Linked DNA regions of Homo sapiens: region 2 is linked to region 1. The links come from fine-mapping of genetic effects on gene expression. A gene starts in region 1. The other region holds a variant in brackets. All regions are shown on one strand. Distances are from middle to middle.

Region 1 (2,912 bases):
ACATTTTCTAATGTTTCTACCCGTTATCTCATTAAAAAGAATAAAGAAATAGGGGTGGGGATAGAACCACATTCATCTACTTTCATAGAAGGTGCATACTGGAGTCCTGCAGATACAATTTATTTGATCTATATTTTAAAAATTAGGGAAATGCCACATTAGAAAACAGTTCCAGGTTTTTGGTTCTCTTAAGAAACTGGAACCTCTGGGCACAGTGTGTGTGCCTATCTTCTTTTGTGGAAAAGTAGGCTGGAGCTGAGAATTGGCTGCTCTCTTTACACAGGCTCTACAGTTTGCCATTCCCTACCACTCCTGAATGTTTTACACCCATATTTATTTTGTTGCTTCACCCTGCAGTCGGGAGACTCCTGCAGTTTATGAAATTGATACAACAGGGCTTTTTTTTTTTTTTTTTTTTTTGGTAGGGGGTGCAAATCTCTTTGATTTGAGGGGAACGCAGTGGTCGCTTTTGCTTCCAAACAGCCTTAAATCTGCCCGTTTTTCAACGATCTGACCTTACTTTTTCAGGGTGGCCAAAAGCACAAAATTATGAATCAAAGAATGGTCCCCAATTACCACGAGCCAGCTGTGTGACCTTGGGCGACTCCGTTAAGTTCTTTTAGCCAAGAGTGATGAATGGTCTGCAAAACGACCTTAATACCTGTTCTGAATACCCCCACATGGCTGTGGTACAGCAGGCGTGAGATGTTTAAAGTACTCCTAAGTAATTTATAAACTGCAAAACGCTTCCCAGCACAAGCGTCCGCTACAGAGCGCGACGACACCGAGCCGGTTTAGAAGTCCAGTTACTGGAATCCACTCCAGTTCCGTCCTGCTCCCACCTCCTACGCTCAGGGTGGGCGAGCGGAAGGAGACTCTCAAGGGAGAAGGCCTGGAAAACTGGCTAAGAAACGAAGCGAGAAGTTCCTCAGCAGGGGTAAAGTTGTTGGCGGCATTTTTAAGCCCCTAGAGTGGCACAGCGACTCCCGGTCGAGATGACGGACCCCGGTGCGTGACCAGCGCGGGAGCCAGTCCCGGGCCACCTCCCTGCTTGAAGTCGGGCCTGGCCAGTACCCTCCCGGCGCAACCCCGGACCCGGGACCCCCGACTTTGCCCTAGTCCCCAACCCCCACAATCACCTCCCTTGGTCCCCCTCCACGTGACAAGAGCCGGAACCGTCACTTCCGGCGGCGCGGGCAGCGCGCCTGCGCGGGTCGCCCGGCCTCAGTGAGCGGTTGGCAGCAGCGCCCCCCCCCCCCCCCCGCCAACGGCCACGAGTGGCGGGCGGCGCGGGTTCGGCCGGGGCGGCGGCGGCGCGACGGGCTGCGGTCCTGCGGGTTTGTGGCCTGAGACGTCTAGCCCACTCCCTGGAGGGGCCGGCCGCCCAGCCTCTTTCGCTCTCTTCCTCTACCCCGGCTCGCGCTCCAGGCGCTTAGTGAGGCGGCGGGACGCCCGGGGCACTGGCGGAGGCGGCGGCGTCGCCCCTGGATTCGGACCCGCCCCCTCGCGCCCCGCCCCGTCCCCGCCCTCCCCACCGCCCTCTGCGGGAGCCGGGCAGCTGCAGCGGAGCCGCGGAGCGGGCGGCGGGGCCCAGGCTGTGCGCTTGGGGAGCGCGGAATGTGAGGCTTGGCGGGCCGCAGCACGCTCGGACGGGCCAGGGGCGGCGACCCCTCGCGGACGCCCGGCTGCGCGCCGGGCCGGGGACTTGCCCTTGCACGCTCCCTGCGCCCTCCAGCTCGCCGGCGGGACCATGAAGAAGTTCTCTCGGATGCCCAAGTCGGAGGGCGGCAGCGGCGGCGGAGCGGCGGGTGGCGGGGCTGGCGGGGCCGGGGCCGGGGCCGGCTGCGGCTCCGGCGGCTCGTCCGTGGGGGTCCGGGTGTTCGCGGTCGGCCGCCACCAGGTCACCCTGGAAGAGTCGCTGGCCGAAGGTACGGGCGCCCGGGGAGGCTCGGACAGGCAGGTGAGGGAGGGTTGGGGTGTGGCGGCGGCTTCTCCGGGTCCTCGCCCTCCGGACTGACTCTTATACCCCATTCTTCCTCTGCTGCCGGGCCAGCGGGGGCTCCTAAAGAGTGGCTCGGGCTTTCTCTCTTAAGCTGGCTTTTCTTGCCGCTGGCTGCCCCGGCCGGTGCACAGTTCTCTCATGCCTAGTTTAAATCATTTTCTGTGCTTTTTGACGCGAGAAAATAGGTAGTAGACGGGCTAGGAAGTGGGTTGGTGTTACGATTGGGCCAGTGACTCATTAGAGGGTCAGATCGAACAGGGTTGAAGCTCCGTTCTGCCAGCTGTGGCTCAGACGGGTGTCATGCGTTGGCCTTTTCATCTAAGCCTCCACCCGCGCTGCAGGGCATAGGACCCTGCAGCCCCTGGTGTCAAGCTGGGCTTTGCTGCAGCTCAGTCATCTGTTGAAAAACAATGTATTTGTGTGCATGTGTGCGTGTTGGAGGTGATCCTTTGCTCTAAATTCAGTTAGTAGGTTGCACTGAGGAGCAGGTAAACTTGGAGCCCATTTATCTTTGTTATTTAGAATCTTCTCTGTTGGACAAGGTGCTATTCATGCCCTCCCAGTATGTCTCTTTGATAGTAGTTTAAAAGGTGATATAAAAGCAGGTTAACTTTCACTTAACGAGGTTTTGTGGTCGGTCCTTCATGATCTGGAACAGGTTATGACGGCAGGTAGAAGTCTACTTACAAAAAAAGTTTACTCCATTTTAAAAGAAGAACTTAGAATTTAGTTTTGTATTTCTGGCATAATTGCCTTGTAGAAAATACTTGCCCTGTGTGCTGCATGCTTCATTGGCCTTTGAGTTTTTAGTTGCAAAATGATACTACAAAATAAACACTTTAAAAGAAATACTTTTTGTTGATAAATGGCCCTTTTAAGTTCTATGGTTAAGATAAAAAAAATCGAAGAG
Region 2 (2,912 bases), 130 kb after region 1:
TTAAAAACCCACAGATTTATACCCACACTGACAATTATAAATGTGTATTTCTATTAATACAACTTTGATAAATGGACAAAGGGCCAACAGAATGAGAAGTATAAAGTGACAGATGTCTTCTGAAAAGTAATGGTAGCCAGTTGAATAATGAAAACAGTAAATTTTAAGAAGACTAGGGAGTACAATGTAATAATTTTAAAAAGAAGGCGAATTTAAATTCACTTCCAAGTGACACTCTCCAAGATGAATTATCTGTCCTACGTTAAATGTTCCAGAAGACCTTCAGGAACACAACTAGAAATGGAAAATTTCAAGATAAGTTGTATAGCAGCATTTCCCCAAAGTACTTTTGCATAGTTGGTTTTAAAGGTTAACAGGCATTACATGTAAATAAAAGGGTAGTGAAGACAATTTGGGAAATCCTAGGGTTCATAAAATTAGATTCTTTTGTGTAGGACTCATTAGCACCTTTAATGAGCATACTCCAGGTGAGTAGGAGTGGAGGCAGAATGCAGAGTGCACCATTTCATAGACTTGTTTGCTTGAGACCACAGAACTGTTTGTCTTGGTTCTTGTTAGGGAAATAGCCTCTGCAGAATACACTTTGGGCAACATTGGAATGTTACTTGGAGGTGTCCGTGAGCAGGCGTGAGGTGTGAATGTTGTGGCTGTGGGTGGGTATGCAGCTCGAGGAGTAATACGTTAAACGTTTCACAGTCAGGGATGATGGGAAATCTTCTGGAACCGTACATATTTTATTTTCATTTTTCCCTTCTTCCCATATTTTGCTTTTGAATAAAAATTCATAAAAATAAATTCACTAAAATTAACTTTGTTTTTAATATCATAAATACGCTGTGTAGGGAAGAAGTCAAACTTGAGAATCTGCATTTGATTTGCTTTTAATCTGGAAGGATAACAAATACAGCATGTAGCTCTTGGCTGGTTTTAAGGAACTGACAGAAGATTATATTTGCAATTAAGTATAACCTGGTGGTATTCTTCACATACTTGTCTCCCACACATTCTTTAGCACCACTACTCATGTCAACATTGCCAACAAACTATACAAGATGACCAGATCCAGTGGCCATTTTATGTCCTTAGTTTACTGGACCTCTTTGCACCATCCAGCTCAGTTGTCTGTTACCTCCCTCAAACATTCTTCTCTCTCCATTTCTGTGACATTGCACTCAGCTGTTTTCTTCCTCCTCTCTGGCTGTTACTTTGTAGTTTGTTTTGTATGTTCATCTTCCTCTGCTGACTTCTGAATGTTTTATACTGAGGGCTCAGTTTTGGATCTTCTTTTCTTCTATGTTTTCTTCCGAGGTATGCCCTTTAGTCTTGTGGCTCTCTCTGCATACCAACTGCATGGTGATAACTCCCAAATCTATTTTCTTCAGCCAAAAACTAACCATTGGTTTCAAATCACAGATACCTAACT[G/C]CTGTACACTTAAATGTTGTCTCACACATATGTCAAGCTTAATGTCTCCAAACAAAATTTTTAGTACTCCTCTTCACTTTCCAACTTACTCATTTTTTAAAAAATTATGCTCATTAAAATTTGTGTGTGGGTACATAGTAGGTATATACATTTATGGGGTACATGAGATATGTTGATACAGGTATACAGTGCATAATAATCACATCAGGGTAAATGGGTTTCTATCACGCCACTCATTCTTTTCTTTCTGTTAATGGTGCTGCCATCCACCAAGAGTTTTCAATCTCTATTTTTTCTACTTTGACCCACCCTGCCACCACTGTCATGTCATCTAGGCCACCAAAATCTCTAACTTGCATTACTATAATTTCCTTTTGCCTGAACTCCCCTTCTTACCTTCCCTTAGTCTTTTTTTTTTTTTTTTTTTTTTTTGAGACAGTTCGCTCTTTGGCCCAGACTGGAGTGCAGTGGTGCGATCTTGGCTCACTGCAACCTCTGTCTTCCAGTTTCAAGCGATTCTCCTGGCTCAGCTGGCACCTGCCAACATGCCTGGCTAATTTTTCTATTTTTAGTAGAGATGGGGTTTCACCATGTTGGCCAGGCTGGTCTCAAACTCCTGACCTCGTGATCCACCCGCCTTGGCCTCCCAAAGTGCTGGGATTACAGGGGTGAGCCACCGCACCCAGCCCCCTTAGTGTTTTTCTATAGAGCAGTCATTTTTTTTTATGTAAACCTAATCATGACACCTATTTTAATAATAGCTTTCCATTATACATGGAATTTTGAATTAGATGTATAATGAAATATACGCTGCTTATCATGGCCTTAGAGGACCTTCACAGTCTGGCCTTTTCCAGTCTTCCTTACCTCATGTTGTACCTGATCCTCCCTTGCTCACTATATTCCAGCCACAATAGCCTATTTTCAGCCCCTTAAATATGTCTTTATATATGCCATTGCTTTTATTGGAAGCTGCTTCCAGCTTATCCTTTGCATGGCTGGGCTCCTTCTCATTGTTCAATCCTAACTGTCGTCTCCTTAGGGAGGTCTTCACCACTGTCCAAAGTAGGTTTATGCGCCCATTTCCCTGCTGTCCTTTATTTCAGAGCACTAGTCACAATTTATGTTTACTTACAACCTCTGACTGTAAACCCCTGAAAGCAGAAACCATGTTTCTTTTACTCACCAATGTATAATCAGTGTATAGCAAAGTGCCCTATATTTCTTTCGTTGAATGAACTCAGAAAATGAAGTGACTGAATGGATTCTGAGCTAAAAACATCTCCAGATGGTTTAGATTTGTTTTTAAAGGAATCTCGCTTTTTTAATGTAATGTATAGATATTATAATTAAAGGAAGTCATATCATCTAGAGAAGGCAGATGTTTTTGGTACAGTCTCCATTTAGTATCTGGTCCTTAGCTTTGGTGAGGCCATTCATGCTAAGTCAATTCAAAAGATAGTGGTTT

Which allele goes with the higher level. Positions count from the first base shown, and alleles are read on the strand shown. Sizes are in standard deviations (SD) of each study's normalised expression.
With allele G in place of C in region 2, the expression in tibial artery of the gene that starts at base 1,557 in region 1 is higher (small effect, 0.30 SD a copy in GTEx).

What was found.
Region 2: its variant is fine-mapped to the expression of BMP2K in tibial artery (GTEx, PIP 0.91).

What each region holds. Positions count from the first base shown.
Region 1 is chr4:78,774,794-78,777,705 of GRCh38, forward strand. It overlaps BMP2K (BMP2 inducible kinase), which reads left to right and starts at 1,557. Exons shown (of 16, transcript NM_198892.2): 1 at 1,557-1,928. The coding sequence starts at 1,751. BMP2K-DT (BMP2K divergent transcript) reads right to left here and starts at 1,177. Exons shown (of 1, transcript NR_186689.1): 1 at 1-1,177. RefSeq lists enhancers at 793-1,423, 2,056-2,686 and silencers at 890-1,139, 1,230-1,899, 2,261-2,461.
Region 2 is chr4:78,907,204-78,910,115 of GRCh38, forward strand. The region is part of intron 15 of BMP2K (BMP2 inducible kinase); the gene reads left to right. It also overlaps a transcript of PAQR3 not described here. Among named protein-coding and RNA genes, the nearest start is that of PAQR3, 31 kb to the right of the region's middle. The variant G/C (reference allele first, on the strand shown) is at 1,445.